2 separate regions of the Homo sapiens genome follow, and region 2 is linked to region 1. A link means that fine-mapping ties the variant in region 1 to the expression of a gene that starts in the linked region. Tissue or cell type: whole blood. Region 1 holds a variant in brackets; the other region holds the start of a gene. All regions are shown on one strand. Distances are from middle to middle.

Evidence for each region. PIP is the estimated chance that this variant, and not a neighbour inherited with it, causes the effect.
Region 2: it holds the start of DRC12, and the variant in region 1 is fine-mapped to the expression of DRC12 in whole blood (TOPMed, PIP 0.97).

What each region holds. Positions count from the first base shown.
Region 1 is chr11:119,159,824-119,167,922 of GRCh38, reverse strand. ABCG4 (ATP binding cassette subfamily G member 4) reads right to left here. Exons shown (of 15, transcript NM_022169.5): 13 at 7,538-7,696; 14 at 7,267-7,385; 15 at 5,270-7,042. The coding sequence ends at 6,817. Among named protein-coding and RNA genes, the nearest start is that of NLRX1, 4.9 kb to the left of the region's middle. The variant T/C (reference allele first, on the strand shown) is at 4,992.
Region 2 is chr11:119,191,539-119,199,637 of GRCh38, reverse strand. DRC12 (dynein regulatory complex subunit 12 homolog) reads left to right here and starts at 3,797. Exons shown (of 7, transcript NM_001145018.3): 1 at 3,797-3,839; 2 at 4,139-4,214; 3 at 4,644-4,715; 4 at 5,753-5,872; 5 at 6,395-6,487. The coding sequence starts at 4,151. RefSeq lists an enhancer at 8,044-8,099.

The DNA of each region.
Region 1 (8,099 bases):
CCACAGCAAGGCAGGCACCTCACTTTAATGGAATCAACTACCACATTTACAAATGATGTACTTCAAGGCCGAGGCAGGAGGATCACTTGAGACCAGGAGTTTGAGACCAGCCTGGGTGACATAGTGAGACCCTGTCTCTATTTAAAATGAAAATAGAAAATAAAAATATAAAAAACAGACAAACAAATGATGTACTTCAGTGGCAGAGGCAAGGCATTAGGAGAGTCTGGAAAAGGGAGTGCAGAGGAGGTAACATTTGTACTGGATCTGAAAAAATAAATCAGAGGACCAGCCGCGGTGGCTCACACCTGTAATCTCAGCACTTTGGAAGGCTGGGGGTGAGGGCAGATCTCCTGAGGCCAGGAGTTTGGGACCAGCTCAAACTCGTCACCATGGCCAACATGGTGAAACCCCCGTCTCTACTAAAAATAACAAAAATTGGCCAGGCATGGTGGCTCATGCCTGTAATCCTAGCACTTTGGGAGGCCAAGGCAGGCGGATTGCCTGAGCTCAGAAGTTCACGACCAACCTAGGCAACGTGGTGAAACCTCATCTCTACTAAAAATACAAAAATTAGCCGGGCTGGGTGGTGCATGCCTGCAGTCCCAGCTACACAGGAGGCTTAGGCAGGAGAATCGCTTGAATCCAGGAGGCGGAGGTTGCCGTGAGCCAAGATCACGCCACTGCATTCCAGCCTGGGAGACAGAGCAAGACTCTGTATCAAAAAAAAAAAAAAAATCAACCAGACGTGGTGGCATGGGCCTGTAGTACCAGCTACTCAGAAGGCTGAGGCACAAGAATTGCTTGAACTTGGGAGGTAGAGGTTGCAGTGAGCCGAGATCATGCCACTGCACTCTAGCCTGGGAGATAAAGCAAAACCGTGTCTCAAAAATAAAAACAAAAGCACAAAAAATTAGCTGGGCATGGTGGCACATGCCCATAATCACAGCTACTCAGGAGACTGAAGCAGGAGAATTGCTTGAACCTGGGAGGCGGAGGTTGCAGTGAGCCAAGATTGCACCACTGCACTCCAACCTGGGCAACAGAGAGAGACCCTGTCTCAATAAATAAATAAATCAGAGAAAGGAAAGGCAGGGCATCCCAGCAGCAGGGTGAACAACACATTTGCATTTTAAAAGAGGTTCTTCAAGGGGAGTAGAATAGGATGTGGGAGGGGAAGTATAGGAACCCCATGAATGTAGTCTCATGGGTGACAGTTTGGGCCTGGTAATCTCCTCTAGCTTCATTCCACTTACCTAGCCATGCAAGACAGTCACCTGGCAGCAGTTCCTGGACACAGCTCAGAGCAATCTGTTTTCCTCCCCTGTCACCTTCCCCATGGGTACGACAACCATGTAGGTTTTATTAATAACATATACTTTGACTGGCCTCTTGCAGACAGAAGTACTGTGAGTCATGCCGTGGGCATGTCCTCTGTTGTCTGACCTAGGATGCGGTGCAGTGGCTCACCCTATAATCCCAGCACTTTGGGAGGCCGAGGTGGGTGGATCACCTGAGGTCAGTAGTTCGAGACCAGCCTGACCAACGTGGTGAAACCCCGTCTCTACTAGAAATACAAAAAAATTAGCCAGGCTTGGTGGCAGGCACCTGTAGTCCCAGCTACTCAGGAGGCTGAGGCAGGAGAATCGCTTGAACCCAGGAGGCAGAGGTTGCAGTGAGCCGCGATCATGCCACTACACACTCCAGCCTTGGCTACAGAGTGAGACTCTGTCTAAAAAAAAAAAAAAAAGTTATAGCATGAGGCCGGGGTGTGGTTGCTCACACCTGTAATCCCAGCACTTTGGGAGGCTAAGGCAGAAGGATCACTCGAGCCCAGGAGTTTGAGACCAGCTTGGGCAACATAATAGAACCCTGACTCCACAAAAATAATTTTTAAAAAATTAGCTAGGCATGGTGGCACGCACCTGCGGTCCCAGCTACTCTAGAGTCTGAGATGGGAGGATCGCTTGAGCCCAGGAAGTTGAGGCTGCAGTAAGCCATGGTTGCACCCTGTACTCTAGCATGGGTGACAGAGCGAGACCCTGTCTCAAAAAAAAAGAATTATTGCATGGACAACTGTCTTAGTCAACTCTGGTCTTCAGCACTTTGCATAGGTCTGGACACAGAGAAGGTGACTGTGTTAAAGAAGATGATATCAGATGGGCGTGGTGGCTCACGCCTGTAATCCCAGCACTTTGGGAGGCCAGTGTGGGTGGATTGCCTGAGCTCAGGAGTTCGAGATCATCAGGGCTACATGGTGAAACCCCGCCTCTACTAAAAATACAAAAAAAATTAACCAGGTGTGGTGGCGCACGCCTCTAGTCCCAGCTACTTGGGAGGCTGAGGCAGGAGAATTGCTTGAGCCCCAGAGGCGAAGGTTGCAGTGAGCCGAGATCACGCCACTGCACTCCAGCTTGGGCTACAGAGTGAGACTCCGTCTCAAAAAAGAAAAAAAAAAAGATGATCTGTAAGCCCAGGTACTTAGGTACTTTGGCACTTAGGGAGAGAGGGCCCACTTCAAAACATACTTAGATGGGCAGGGAGCATTTATGCTCCAACTCAGCAGGTTACTGGGACTGGTGGGAGGAACATGGGGTAGGGCACAGTGGCAAGAGTACAGTATCTCGCCGGGAGTGGTGGCTCATGTCTGTAATCCCAGCACTTTGGGAGGCCGAGACGGGTGGATCACGAGGTCCGGAGATTGAGACCATCCTGGCTAACACGGTGAAACCCCGTCTCTACTAAAAATACAAAAAAATTAGCCAGGCGTAGTGGCAGGCACCTCTAGTCCCAGCTACTTGGGAGGCTGAGGCAGGAGAATGTCGTGAACCCAGGAGGCAGAGCTTGCTTGCAGCGAGCCGAGATGGTACCACTGCACTCCAGCCTGGGCGACAGAGAGAGACTCCATCTCAAAAAAAAAAAAAAAGTATTTACTGGATTTTTTTTTTAACAGGGTGTCACTCTATCACCCAGGCTGGGGTGCAGTGGCACAATCATAGCTCACTGTAATCTCAAACTCCTGGGCTCAAGTGATCCTCTCACCTCAGCCTCCCAAGTAACTAGGACTACAAGCATTGCCACCATGCCCAGCTAATTGTTTGTTTGTTTGTTTGTTTGTTTGTTTTTATAGAGAGCTGTAGTGATGGGGCCTCACTGTGTTGCCCAGGCTGGCCTCCCAAAGTCCTGGAATTACAGATGTGAGCTACCATGCCATGCCCTAGTATTTACGTTTTAAAAAGAGAAAGAGGGCCGGGCATGGTGGCTCATGCCTGTAATACTAACACTTTCGGAAGCTGAGCTGAGAGGAACGTTTCAGCCCAGGAGTTGGAGACCAGCCTGGGCAACGTGATGAGACCCCATCTCTACATTTTAAAAAATTTAAAAATTAGGCCTGAGGTTAGGAGTTCAAGAGCAGCCTGACCAACATGGAGAAACCCCGTCTCTACTAAAAATACAAAATTAGCTGGGCGTGGTAGTGCATGCCTGTAATCCCAGCTACTCCGGAGGCTGAGGGAGGACAGTCGCTTGAACCTGGGAGGCGGAGGTTGCAGTGAGCCGAGATCGCGCCATTGCACTCAAGCCCTGGCAACAAAAGTGAAACTCTGTCTCAAAAAAAAAAAAAAATTAAAAATTATCTGGGCATAGTGACATACACCTATCATCCCAGCTACTCAGGAGGCTGAGGGAGGAGGATCCCTTGAGCCCAGGAGTTCAAGCTGCAATGAGCTATGTTTGTACCACTGCACTACAGCCCAGGTGACAGAGTGAGACCCTGTCTTTAAATAAAAAAGAGAGAGAGAGTAAAATAAGAATCTTAAGACAGATGCTTTAATGGTGGGATTTCATGCCCTTTGATACGTCAAAAGCCATCTGTTGGCATCACTCCAGGGAGAAGGAGGCACCCAGAATGCCCTCTAAATCTAACTAGAATTCCAGGAGCTTGAACTCAGACTTCTTCATGCTTTCCACTCCCATCACAAACCTCCATAAGAAAAAAAAAAAAAGTCATTCACCTCCAGGTGAGCACCCAACCACTCATAACTTGGACCCTAGTTTAGTTTGGGTCACTTAAGTCTACATGTGGCACAACTAGGGTGTTCCAGGCAGCTGGCAGGTTGATGCCAGTCATTTCCTTCAGTCCCCAAGCCTCAGGCCCAGGAGAGAAGAGGGTGAGGCAGTGCGCTGCTTCTTGGGTTGTCCTGCCCCCAGTCCTCAAGAACTTCTGGACACTTGCCTGCTCCAAACCCCCAGCCACCAGACCCATTTGTATTCCTGGTGGCTGACAGTTCAGCCCCAGTAAGGGTGGCTGGGTGGGAAGAGAGGAGAAGCCAAGGGGAAAGGCGAGTAAGCCCAGCGAGGCCCCCGCCACTCCCATCCTAGGGATGGGGCTCCAGGGTCTTTCCTGCTTCTCACTGCCCTCCATAACCATTAACACACCCCACCCCTGCAGGCACACCCAGGGCTCAGTGAGTCCTGAAGACAGAGGCAGGCATCATTTGGGCAAGAACTCACTCATACAACAGACACGCAGCTCCCCCACACAGCATGTGGGTCCACCATGAACAAGTGCCATTGACCGATGCCAAGAAAGAGGACTTTGGAGGCAGAAGACCTGGTCTCCAGGCCTGGCTCCTCCTCCATTCGTTGAGGGCCCTTGGGTAGGTTACTTAACCCAAGTCTCAGTTCTCTCATCTACAAAACGGGTTGTCATGAAGGATGGTGCAGGGTCAGCATGAGACTCCCTTGAGATAATGAATGTGAAGCCTCTGTGAGATGGACAGCATGATGCAAATATTTCTTTTTTTTTTTTTTTTTTTTTTGAGACGGAGTCTCGCTCTGTCGCCCAGGCTGGAGTGCAGTGGCACGATCTCGGCTCACTGCAACCTCCGCCTCCCGGGTTCATGCCATTTTCCTGCCTCAGCCTCCCGAGTAGCTGGGACTACAGGCACCCGCCACCACGCCCGGCTAATTTTTTGTATTTTTAGTAGAGA[T/C]GGGGTTTCATCGTGTTAGCCAAGATTGTCTCGATCTCCTGACCTCGTGATTCGCCCGCCTCGGCCTCCCGAAGTGCTGGGATTACAGGCGTGAGCCACCATGCCCGGTGACACAAATATTTCTTAAGCTACATGTTCACTAGCTTGACATGTACCTGGGACCTACCATCCCCTGCCACAGACTCCCTACAGCTGACAGGCCTCATGCCAAATGCTTTGAAGGCCCCCTTGCAGGGCACAGTACCAGGTGGCAGATCCACACACATTTACACATTGCATACTGTATAAATATAGGTTTTATTAATAATGGGTGAAATCCCACAAATACAACTGGCATCCCTGTGTGATAGGAAGAATCTGTGGCAGGGTGAGAGGAGGTAGACAGGGATGTGTACAGGAAAAAGGGGGAAAATGAGCCCTGGGGGAGGGGAAATCAGAAGCAGAATGAGCCTGGACCCACCAGGAAAGCCAGACATGCTCTGAGTGTGTCTGCCACCTGGTGCCCAGGGCAGGCTGTTCTGATGCCCAGGGGCCACCTGCTGATAGGAACAGTGGAGGGACATGGACAGAAGTTTGAATGAGCAGCAGTGGCTGGGGAAGGGGTAGGGGAGTGAAGATGCCAGCATGGAGCACAAAAGGAGGGCCGTGGGTGGCAGTGGCCAAGGCCAACTTATGCCCGTGGTTGTGCTTGTGTTGGTTCCTGAACTCCAGGGATCTAGTGCCCTGTGCCACCCCTGGCTTGGGAGGAGGGAAGACTTGGGGGTAGACACCTGCAGTTCCTGTAGACACCCTGGGCAGCACCAGCCTTATCCTTAGAGTCTCCAACATGGGATCCCCAGGAGGAGGTTGGCACTGTCCTCCCACCAGCACCCGCCACCACCAGCATGCCACCATCACTCTTCCTCTGTGCTGTAGGGGATGGCAAGTGTGTAGGGCTGAGATGGCCTGTTCTCATGTATGTGCCTGTCACTCCGGAGAGGGAGGGAGCATCACGAGACCGTGCATGCGTTAGGGGCAGCGAGAAAGGAGGGTTGGGTCTTCCCCCACTCACCCCCCGCCCAGAATAAAGTGCATTCTCCAGTTCCAGTGGCAGGTGGGAGAGAAACACAGACATTATTGCACAGGTGCCACCAGGCCCTGCCCCCACCAAAGGTGATGGGGAGGGGGATGGGGCATCCCACAGCCCCAGGCCTCTCCAATCCCCAGGATTGGGAGTGGTGACCTAGACAGAAAACCCAGCTTCTGTCCTGGCAGATTGTCCAAGTCAGCCAGGGTCTAGGGGTGGAGAGAAGAGGAGGAGGAGGAAGAGACTTCCAGAGTCCTTCCCTGTCCATTTCAACATCCATAATGGGACTTCCAGTGGACTCCACCAGGGCCCAGCCCTGGAACTCCAACCTTATAGCAGCCCAGTTTACAAACACTTGTGTGGTGGGGACCCCCAGAGGGGGCCACTTTGGTCAGTTGTAAGTGGGGCCCTAGAGAGCCTAGGGCTCCCAGGCAGACAGCAGAGGAGGGTGCCATGGGCAGGAAGGAGGCAGCAGCCTCCCAGTAGTCTTTGCATGCAGGTGTTGGAGAGAGTAGGGAGGAAGCTACAAACCGCATCAACTTGGGAAGACTCCTGGGCATAGTGGGGAGGGCTGGAGCCCCCACTCCCAGAGCCCAGGCTGGGAGCGCAGTCCGACAGCCAGCCTGTGGAGGAGCCAAGGGAGGAGAGGATAGCCCCGCCAGGAACCAGTGCCCAAGTCTATAAGGTTAAAACAGTCCCAAAGGGCTGGGACTGGGGGCTTCCTGCTGCAGGGGCTGGGGTACAGGCTGGGGCAAGCCTCTATCTCTCTGACTTGACCCGGTAACGCAGCACAAGGTAGGCCAGCAGCCGCAGGGCTAGGAAGAAGATGCCCAAGACCAGGAAGTCCATGTAGAGCTTGGCATCCTCCACATCCAGCGCTCGGAGGATGCTCTGTGGCTCCCGGAACGGGCAGCGTTCCTCTAAACATGTCAGGTCTCCTCGCTCCATGCCATAGATCGTCAGGATCACACCCTCAAAGCCATACCTAGGCAGGCAGGGATATCAGATGGGATACAGCACACAGGGTCCCTGCTCTCTGAGAAAACTGCCAGAGCCCAGCTGCAATGCTGTCATCCCTGGGGTGCAGCCAGGGTGCCCCTGCCCAAAGGATAATGGGGCAGGCAGCAGACTTGGCACAACCCAGGAAGCCCTGGGTATGGACTCCTCCAGGGAGGAGCAGAGGCCAACGAGGAGGGCAGGGGTACTGACCTGACATAGGAGAGATAGGAGCTCCATTGCAGGTAAGTGGGGATGGTCTTGAAGCTGACAAAGAAGCCGGAGAACAAGAGGACAGGGATGGCGGTAACTGGGCCCACAAAAGTGGCCACCTAGAGGGGAAGGGAGGGGGCCAGGCCATCATAGGGGTGACCAGGACAAACCCAGGTTTCCTAGAGCTCCACCCTAACCCTTGCACCAGGCCCTGCTTCCTCCCACAAGACCTCATCCCGCCTTGGGAATTCCCAACTGCCAGCCCTCCCACCTGTAGGGAGTTGGAAGCAGCTCCGATCAGCAGCCCCAAAGATTGGGCCACCAAGGCGGTGGCGGTGGCCAGGGCTGAGAAGAGCAGGAAGCGGCTGGTCTCAGCGGGCTGGCCCGTCATCCAGTACACAATGCTGCAGTAGACCACCGGACACACCACCTGGGGAGTGGGCACGGGCTGGACAGTGGACTTCAAGCCAGGGGCACAGCAGCCAAGACCTCCACTCCACCCAAGGCTGGGCCTCTAGAATACCTATTCCCAGGGTGTCCATCCTGCCTCCACATTCTTGTTCAAGCTGTCCCCCAGATTGACACACGTCCCCTTCCTCCCTGGCCATATGACCATCACTTATCTCGTCTCACGTCTTCCGTTTGGTCCACCCTGACTGCTTCAGGCACGGTGACTCTTCCCTTCCCTGAGCGCCTAAAGTCCTTCCCACCTGGACCAGCTTATTCGTTATATTGTTAAGTAATTAACTCTCCATAGGAGAGCCATTTTGTTCCCCCATGAGCTACCAACTCCTAGGGGGCAGGGTCTGAGCTTACTAAGTACAGTCATCCAC
Region 2 (8,099 bases), 32 kb before region 1:
AATGTCTGGGTTACAATAAGGGGTTGCAGAGACCAAGGGTTTTTTGTTTTTGTTTTTGTTTTTTTGACAGAGTTTTGCTCTTGTTGCCCAGGCTGGAGTGCAGTGGCGCAATCTCGGCTCACCACAACCTCCACCTCCCGGGTTCAAGCGATTCTCCTGCCTCAGCCTCCAAAGTAGCTGGGATTACAGGCACCCGCCTCCACACCCGGCTAATTTTTTGTATTTTTAGTAGAGACAGGGTTTCGCCACGTTGGGCAGGCTGGTCTCAAACTCCTGACCTCAGGTGAATCCACCTGCCTTGGCCTCCCAAAGTGTTGGGATTACAGGAGTGAGCCACCGTGCCCGGCAAGAGACCAAGGTTTTATCATGTAGATGAAGCGTCCAGGTAGCAGGCCTCAGAGAGAATTGATTGTAAATGTTTTTTCTTCTTATCTTTTCTCTTTTTATTTTTTGAGACAGGGTGCCACTGCATTTCCCAGACTGGAGTGCAGTCACGTGATCATGGCTCACTGCAACCTCAACCTTCCCAGGCTCAGGTGATCCTCCCACCTCCGCCTCCCAAGTAGCTGGGACTACATATGCACACCACCAAACTGGGCTAACTTTTGTATTTTTTGTGTAGATGGGGTTTCACCACATTGCCCAGGCTGGTCTCAACCTTCTGGCCTCAAATGATCTGCCCGCCTCAGCCTCCCAAAGTGCTGAAATTACAGGCATGAGCCACCAGGCCTGTAAATGTTTCTTATCAGATTTAAAGAGTGTGTTCTATCAGTAATTCTAAAAGGGAGGAGGGTATGTTGAGGCATGTCCGGCTCCCCCTTCCCATCACGGCCTGAACTAGTTCTTCAGGTTCACTTTGGAAAGCCCTTGGCCTAGAGGAGGGGTCCACTCAGATGGCTGGCAGGCTTAGAATTTTATTTTTGGTTTATAGTCACTAAAGTTGGTATACAGGCGCCCACTACTAAATTCCACTGGCTTCAAAAATAAATAAATAAAAGATTAGAAGAAAAATATCCTCCAGATTTGGGAGATGTCCACAAGATTAGTTGACTCTGAGTTACAGGAGCTGGAAGCACTTGGGAAGTCAAGACTGGCTCTTCTCTTTGCTCTGTAAAATGCCCGGAAGTTCATGTAAGTGCCGTGCAGCCACCAAGGTGACAAGCATGAACCAGCCTCTGCCTAAAGTTACCCACTACCCAGAAGAAGGACTTTTCAATTCCAGATCTTGTGGCTTTTTTTTTTTTTTTTGAGATGGAGTCTTGCTCTGCTGCCCAGGCTGAAGTGCAGTGGCGCAATCTCTGTTTACTGCAACCTCCTCCTCCTGGGTTCAAGCGATTCTGCTGCCTCAGCCTCCCCAGTAGCTGGGATTATAGGCACGTGCCACCATGCCCAGCTAATTTTTGTATTTTTTAGTAGAGACAGGGTTTAATAATGTTGGCCAGGCTGGTCTCGAACTCCTGACCTCATGATCTGCCTGCCTCAGCCTCCCAAAGTGCTGGGATTACAGACGTGAGTCACCGCGCCCAGCCTCTTGTGGCTATTTCTACAGATCTGCTCCTGACAATAGGCAATGGACCAAAAATATTGAGGGTGACAGAGATGAAGAGAAGTACCTAAAGAAGGCCGGGCACAGTGGCTCGCGCCTGTAATCCCAGCACTTTGGGAGGCTAAGGCGGGTGGATCACGAGGTCAGGAGTTCAAGACCAGCCTGGCCAAGATGGTGAACCCCCATCTCTACTAAAAATACAAAAATTAGCCAGGCGTGGTGGTGGGCACCTGTATTCCCAGCTACTTGGGAGGCTGAGGCAGAGAATTGCTTGAACCTGGGAGGTGGAGGTTGCAGTGAGCCGAGATCACGTCACTGTACTCCAGCCTGGGCAACAAGAGCGAGACTCTGTCTGAAGAAAAAAAAAAAAAAAGATAGGCTGGTGCAGTGGCTCACGCCTGTAATCCAAGAACCTTGGGAGGCCAAGGCAGGTGGATCGCTTGAGGCCAGGAGTTTGAGACCATGCTGGACAACATGGTAAAACCCCATCTCTACAAAAAATACAAAAATTGGCCAGGTGTGGTGGCATGCGCCTGTAGTCCCAGCTACTCAGGAAGTTGAGGTGGGAAGATCACCAGAGCCCAGGGAGACTGAGGCTGTAGTGAGCCGTGATCATGCCACCGCACTCCAGCCTAGGTGACAGAGAGAGACACGGGAAAAAAAAAAAGAAACCTAAAGAAAAGAAAGGGTCTGCAGGTCCCCTAATCCAAAAGGAGAAAAGTCCTGAAGTTTTTGCTATTTTCACTCTAACCAGTATGGTGCCCAGAGATCCAAGTGGCAGATAAATGGCAAGCCTCCAGGATAGCACAGAGCTGGAGGGAAAGTGAGGGCTGCCTGACAAGGGAGGGCCACCCATCATACTCTCTCCCCAATGTTAATTCTTCCAGCCACTCCTGGCTCAAACAGGACGCTAAGAAGTATCCCCAAAGGGAGTCACCCCCACTGTTGCCCAGTAAATAATTTAAAAGCAAAAATGTAGGAAACTCAGGAGAAGGTCAAACAAGTCCACTAGAGGGAGCCCCAACCAACTCTATGCTACAGGGAGCCTCACAAAGCAATGTCTCAACACCTGTCTGAAAATCAACCACACAAGGGAATGGGGAAATGTAGCAATAGATTAAGTCACTAGGAGAGAAGATAGCCATGTAAACACGCAGCTAAAACACAGGCTTTTCAAGAGCTGCAAAATCAAACAATTAAAGATCAGGAAACTGATGCTGAGCAAAGTCAAATGGCTCGCCTCAGTTTACATATCCACAGTTGGGACTCAAACTCACATGTCTTGTCTCTAACCTGAGCTCTTTCCTCCACACTTGCATCCCTCTAGGTCAGTACCCTAGAGTCCATGGGTCCACTATTCCTCTGCGTCTCATTTCTCTGAAGTGGGAAACTCCCTGGACTACCTATTCCTGCACTTATTACCCTCATTCTACAGTGTACTGAAGAGGATCTTCGGTGGTCTGGGAGTTTTGTTTGTTTGAGACAGGGTCTCCCTCTGTCATCCAGGCTGGAGTGCAGTGGTGCAATCATAGCTCACTGCTGCCTCAACCTCCCAGGCTCAAGTGATTCTCCTGCTTCAGCCTCCCAAGTAGCTGAGACTACAGGTGTGCACCACCACACCAGGCTAATTTTTTAATTTTTTTGTAGAAATGAGGTCTCACTGTGTTGTCCAGGCTGGTCTCGAACTCCTGGCCTCAAGTAATCCTCCTGCCTCAGCTTCTCAAAATGCTGGGATTATAGGCACGAGCCACCGCCCCAGCTTAGATCTTCAGTTTTAAGCCTACTAATGTCATTTTGCTGGTGGGACCTCGGGATGTCAGTTGTCCAACATGGCTACTGTCAGTCCTTTTCCTCTGTATCAGCACCACATATTATCTCAGATGTGTACATCTGAATTTGGAAGTCTCCAAATTGCAGGCCATGTCTACATGGCAATGAATCATAACTAATCGACCTCCAAAGCCCTTTCTTTTCAAACTATACTTAGGATTTTGGGATAAGGAAAGAACTGACCCTTTGAGACCTTGATATTTTAAACTTTGTGAGCTGATTTAGCCCATTCCACCTTCCTGTGAACTCCATGTTTCCCAGTTGCCTGGACAACATACAGCCTCTGGAAACCCAACCTTCCAGCCCTCAGTCCTGCCCTCAAGAGAAATTTGCCACCAAGGATTGGCTCCCAGGACCCAGGCCCCGCCTCAGGCTCCTCGCTAGTTGGGCCTTCTCTCTGCCACTCCCCACGAGTGGGTCACTCCACGGGGAGCCCCAACGCTGGCAGGAGAGGATCCTACAGGTAGGAAGTGAGGGTTGAGGATGATGGGAAGAGGGAGGGGAGCAGGTACAGGGATTTCGTTTCTCTAAAAGAGAGTTGCAAGGAATGACTTCTGTACAGAGTCAGCCTGGTTGAGAGAAAAAACTCCATCCTCCCCACTGACCCCAACCCTGTCTGAGGTTCCAAAGAGACTGTGAACTGACTTTTCTGAAGGATATGAGAGACAAATTTGGACTCAGGAGAGTCTCCTGGTTCAGTCTAAAGCTCAGGAAAGCATCCCTGTGTCCAGACCTAAACATAAGGTCCCCTCCTTCTCCCAGGACAGCAAGGAGATGCCACCTAAAAACAAAGAAAAAGGGAAGAAATCTGGGGCACAGAAGAAGAAAAAGAACTGGGGTGAGTCATGGTGGGTGGAGGTGCCCCCTGCTTCTCCATGTTCTGCCATGAAGACCACGCAGAGCTCCTCCAGAGAGAATTCAGCCTTCTGCAGGACAGGATGGAGCTCTCTTGACCTACCTCTTTCATGTCCTCACAGCCAGATCCAGGGAGCTGAGGAAGTGGGGAAATGGTCACCCACGCTCTCCTTTAAGCCCCATCTAGCTCTGTGCCTTCCTAATATATTTGTCATGTGTATTTTGCATATCTGTTATGTGCTGGTCGGTGAGGACACGGTGCTGACTTCAGTAGACTCTGCCACTGTGGATACCTCATTTAGTGGTCCTCAGGTCTGCTGTGGCAAAAGTGCAGGGTGTGGGGTGAGGATGTGAGCAGAGTGAGGAATGCTGAGATCATGAAGAGCTGAGGCTCTGCCACTTGCCACCGCAGGTGCAGATGTGGTGGCCGAGTCCAGGCACAGGCTGGTGGTGCTGGAGAAGGAGCTGCTCCGAGACCACTTGGGTAAGGAGGGTAGAAGCTGGCATGGGTGGGCAACAGGGGAAGTGAAATGGGGCATTTCTGTATCCTGGGGGATTGGAGAGTTGGAGGTATGGTGGGGGGTTAAGTTGACCCTAACCATCCCCTAGTGGAAAAAGATGATGAGAGAGGGTGGGCAGTGAGAGTTGATAAAGGAAGGTGTTTTTTTTGTTTGTTTGTTTTTTGTTTTTTTTGGTTTTTTTGACAGAATTTTGCTCTATTGCCCGGGCTGGAGTGCAGTGGTATGGTCATAGTCCACTGTAATCTCTAACTCCTGGGCCGCAACAATCTTCCCGCCTCAGCCTCCCGAGTAGCTGGTATTACAGGTGCACACCACCATGCCTGGCTACTTTATTTATTTATTTTTTTTTTTTTTTTTTTTTTTTTTTTTTGAGACAGAGTCTTGTGCTCTGTCGCCCAGGCTGGAGTGCAGTGGTGTGATCTCGGCTCACTGCAACCTCTGCCTCCCAGGTTCAAGCGATTCTCCTGCCTCAGCCTCCCGAGTAGCTGGGATTACAGGCACGTGGCCACCACACCTGGCTAATTTTTGTATTCTTAGTAGAGACGGGTTTTCACCATGTTGGCCAGGCTGGTCTCGAACTCTTGACCTTGTGTCCCACCAGCCTTGGCCTCCCGAAGTGCTGGGATTACAGGCGTGAGCCACCGCGCCTGGCCCTATTTATTTTATAGAGACAAGGTCTCACTCTGTTGCCCAGGCAGGTCTCAAACTCCTGGCCTCAAGCAATTCTCCCACCTAAGCCTCCCAAAATATTGGGATTACAGGCATGAGCCACCATGCCAGGCTATCCGAAAAGAACATAGAGGGAGTTTTTACTTCTTAATAATGAGGAGCCTGTGAGACTCTAGGGATAAAAAACAAAAACAACAAAACCCAGAGAGAGAGTAAGAGGCTGGACACCCCACCACCAGATTTCTAGAGGTGGGCAAAGTCCATCACGTTCATGGGGGCTGATTTAGTGGGACCCAGCCAGTCCTGACGGCGGCTCTGGGACTGCTCACAGCTCTACGGAGGGATGAAGCCCGTCGAGCCAAGGCTTCCGAAGACCAGCTGAGGCAGAGGCTGCAAGGGGTGGAGGCTGAGCTGGAAGGGGCCCGAAGTGAAGGGAAGGCCATATATGCAGGTGTGTGGTCGGTTAAGCAGGTGGGCAGGAGACAGGGGCTTGGAGGAGGACAACCAACAGGGTCAGTTGATGCAAGGAAGGGAAACAAGGAGGGCTTCCGACTGCCAGGCCTGGTCTTGGTCTTTCCCAAACAGTACAAATCAGGAAGGATCCTGCAGGAACCAAAGGCAGGTAGGTTCCTGGGATCCCAGGCAGGGGCCTTCCAGGATGCCTGGTGCCATGTGCTTGATGCTGTGTAGGATACACATGCAGTCATAGCCATCATCTCAATCAGCCCATGGGCGGGGAGAAGGGCTAGCATCCCCATCCAAAGCTGGACTGGGGGAGGTAGGTCGGGCTTCCTGTCCCTTCCTCAGGTTTTCATGGTCTGCAGCTTCTCAGAATCACAAAAAGAACCAAGAAGGCCTTTGTGCTCCTGTTCCACTAGACCAAGTAGAGTCTTCCCCACCCACAACTTCATTTCCTTTCTCCATCCCTCCATCTCCAACCTGGGTCCCTGGTGGCCCACTGCCCCCACCCCAGAGATGAGTCGCCAGTGCCATGCCCTGCAGGAGGATATGCAAACCCGCAGCAAGCAGCTGGAGGAAGAAGTCAAAGGCCTTCGGGGGCAGCTAGGTAGGTTTCCCCACCCTCCAAGCCCCTTCTCTCCAAGAGTTGCAGCAAGGGCCAGCATGAAGGGGTAGACTTCAAAGTCTCTGCTCCAGAAAGCTGCCGTCTGGGCTCTTGGATCACTTTCCCCACTTTCGCTGACCCTCCACCACTGAGGACTGCAGCAGAGGGTTCGGGATACCAAAAATCTCTGCTGTAAGTAAAGAAGAGGCTCCAGGCGCGGTGGCTCAGGCCTGTAATCCCAGCACTTTGGGAGGCCAAGGCGGGCGGATCACCTGAGGTCAGGAGTCCAGGAACAGCCTGGCCAAATGGCAAAACCCCGTCTCTACTAAAAATATAAAAATTAGCCGGATGTGGTGGCGCACACCTGTAATCCCAGCTACTCGGGAGGCTGAAGCAGGAGAATCGCTTGAACCCAGGAGGCAGAGGTTGCAGTGAGCCGAGATCACGCCATTGCACTCCAGCCTGGGCAACAGAGCAAGACTCTGTCTCAAAAAAATAAATAAAAATAAAAAAGAAGATGTAGGCCTCACACCCCATTTCCTCCTCTCAAGTCCAGCCCTAACTCCCCACCACTGCCATGTCTCTTGTGAGCAAAACATATTCCCTTTTAGTTTAGCTGATTTCTACAATGAAACTAAGGGGAAATGTTTGACTTATTTACTTCTGTATCTTCAAGACCTAGCATCTGGTAGATCCTAAATAACTGTTCACCAAATAAATGAATAAACACTCCTAATAAGCAAAAATATTTTTAAAAACCAGGAAGCCTTTGCTTCTCTTGTCTCTTGCTTACAAAATAATGTTGAAATATCTCAGCATGACACATGAGCTCTTTCACAATTTTGGTCTCAAAGTTTTCATACCTTAAAAATGCCTTCAACCGGGTGCGGTGGCTCACCCCTGTAATCCCAGCACTTTGGGAGGCCAAGGCAAGAGAATTGCTTGAGGCCAGGAGTTTGAGACCAGCCTGGCCAGTATGGTGAAATGCCATCTCTACTAAAATTACAAAAATTAGCTGAGCATGGTGGCGTGTGCCTGTAATCTCAGCTACTTGGGAGGCTGAGTCAGGAGAATCACTTGAACCCAGGAGGCGGAGGCTGCAGTGAGCCGAGATCGCACCACTGCACTCCAGCCTCGGCAACAGAGTAAGATTCCAACTAAAAAAAAAAAAAAAAAGGCCTTCGGTTTAGCTATAGATGGCCAGGAGCTGCTTATCTGCCATTCAGACTCTGGGTTCCTTTCCTAATCTTTGCTTTACCTCAAATTCCAAGTCAATCAATGACTCAATTGTTTTTGTTTTTGCTGTTGTTGTTTTGGGGATTTTTTTGTTTTTTGTTTTTTGTTTTGAGACGGAGTTTCACTCTGGTCGCTCATTCTGGAGTGCAATGGCAAATCTCGGCTCACTGCAACCTCCACCTCCTACGTTCAAGCAATTCTCCTGCCTCAGTCTCCCGAGTAGCTGGGATTACAGGTGTGCGCCACCATGCCTGGCTAATTTTTGTATTTTTAGTAGAGATGGAGATTCACCTATGTTGGCCGGGCTCGTTTCGGACTCCTGACCTCAGGTAATCCGCCCTCCTCGGCCTCCCAAAGTGCTAGGATTACAGGCGTGAGC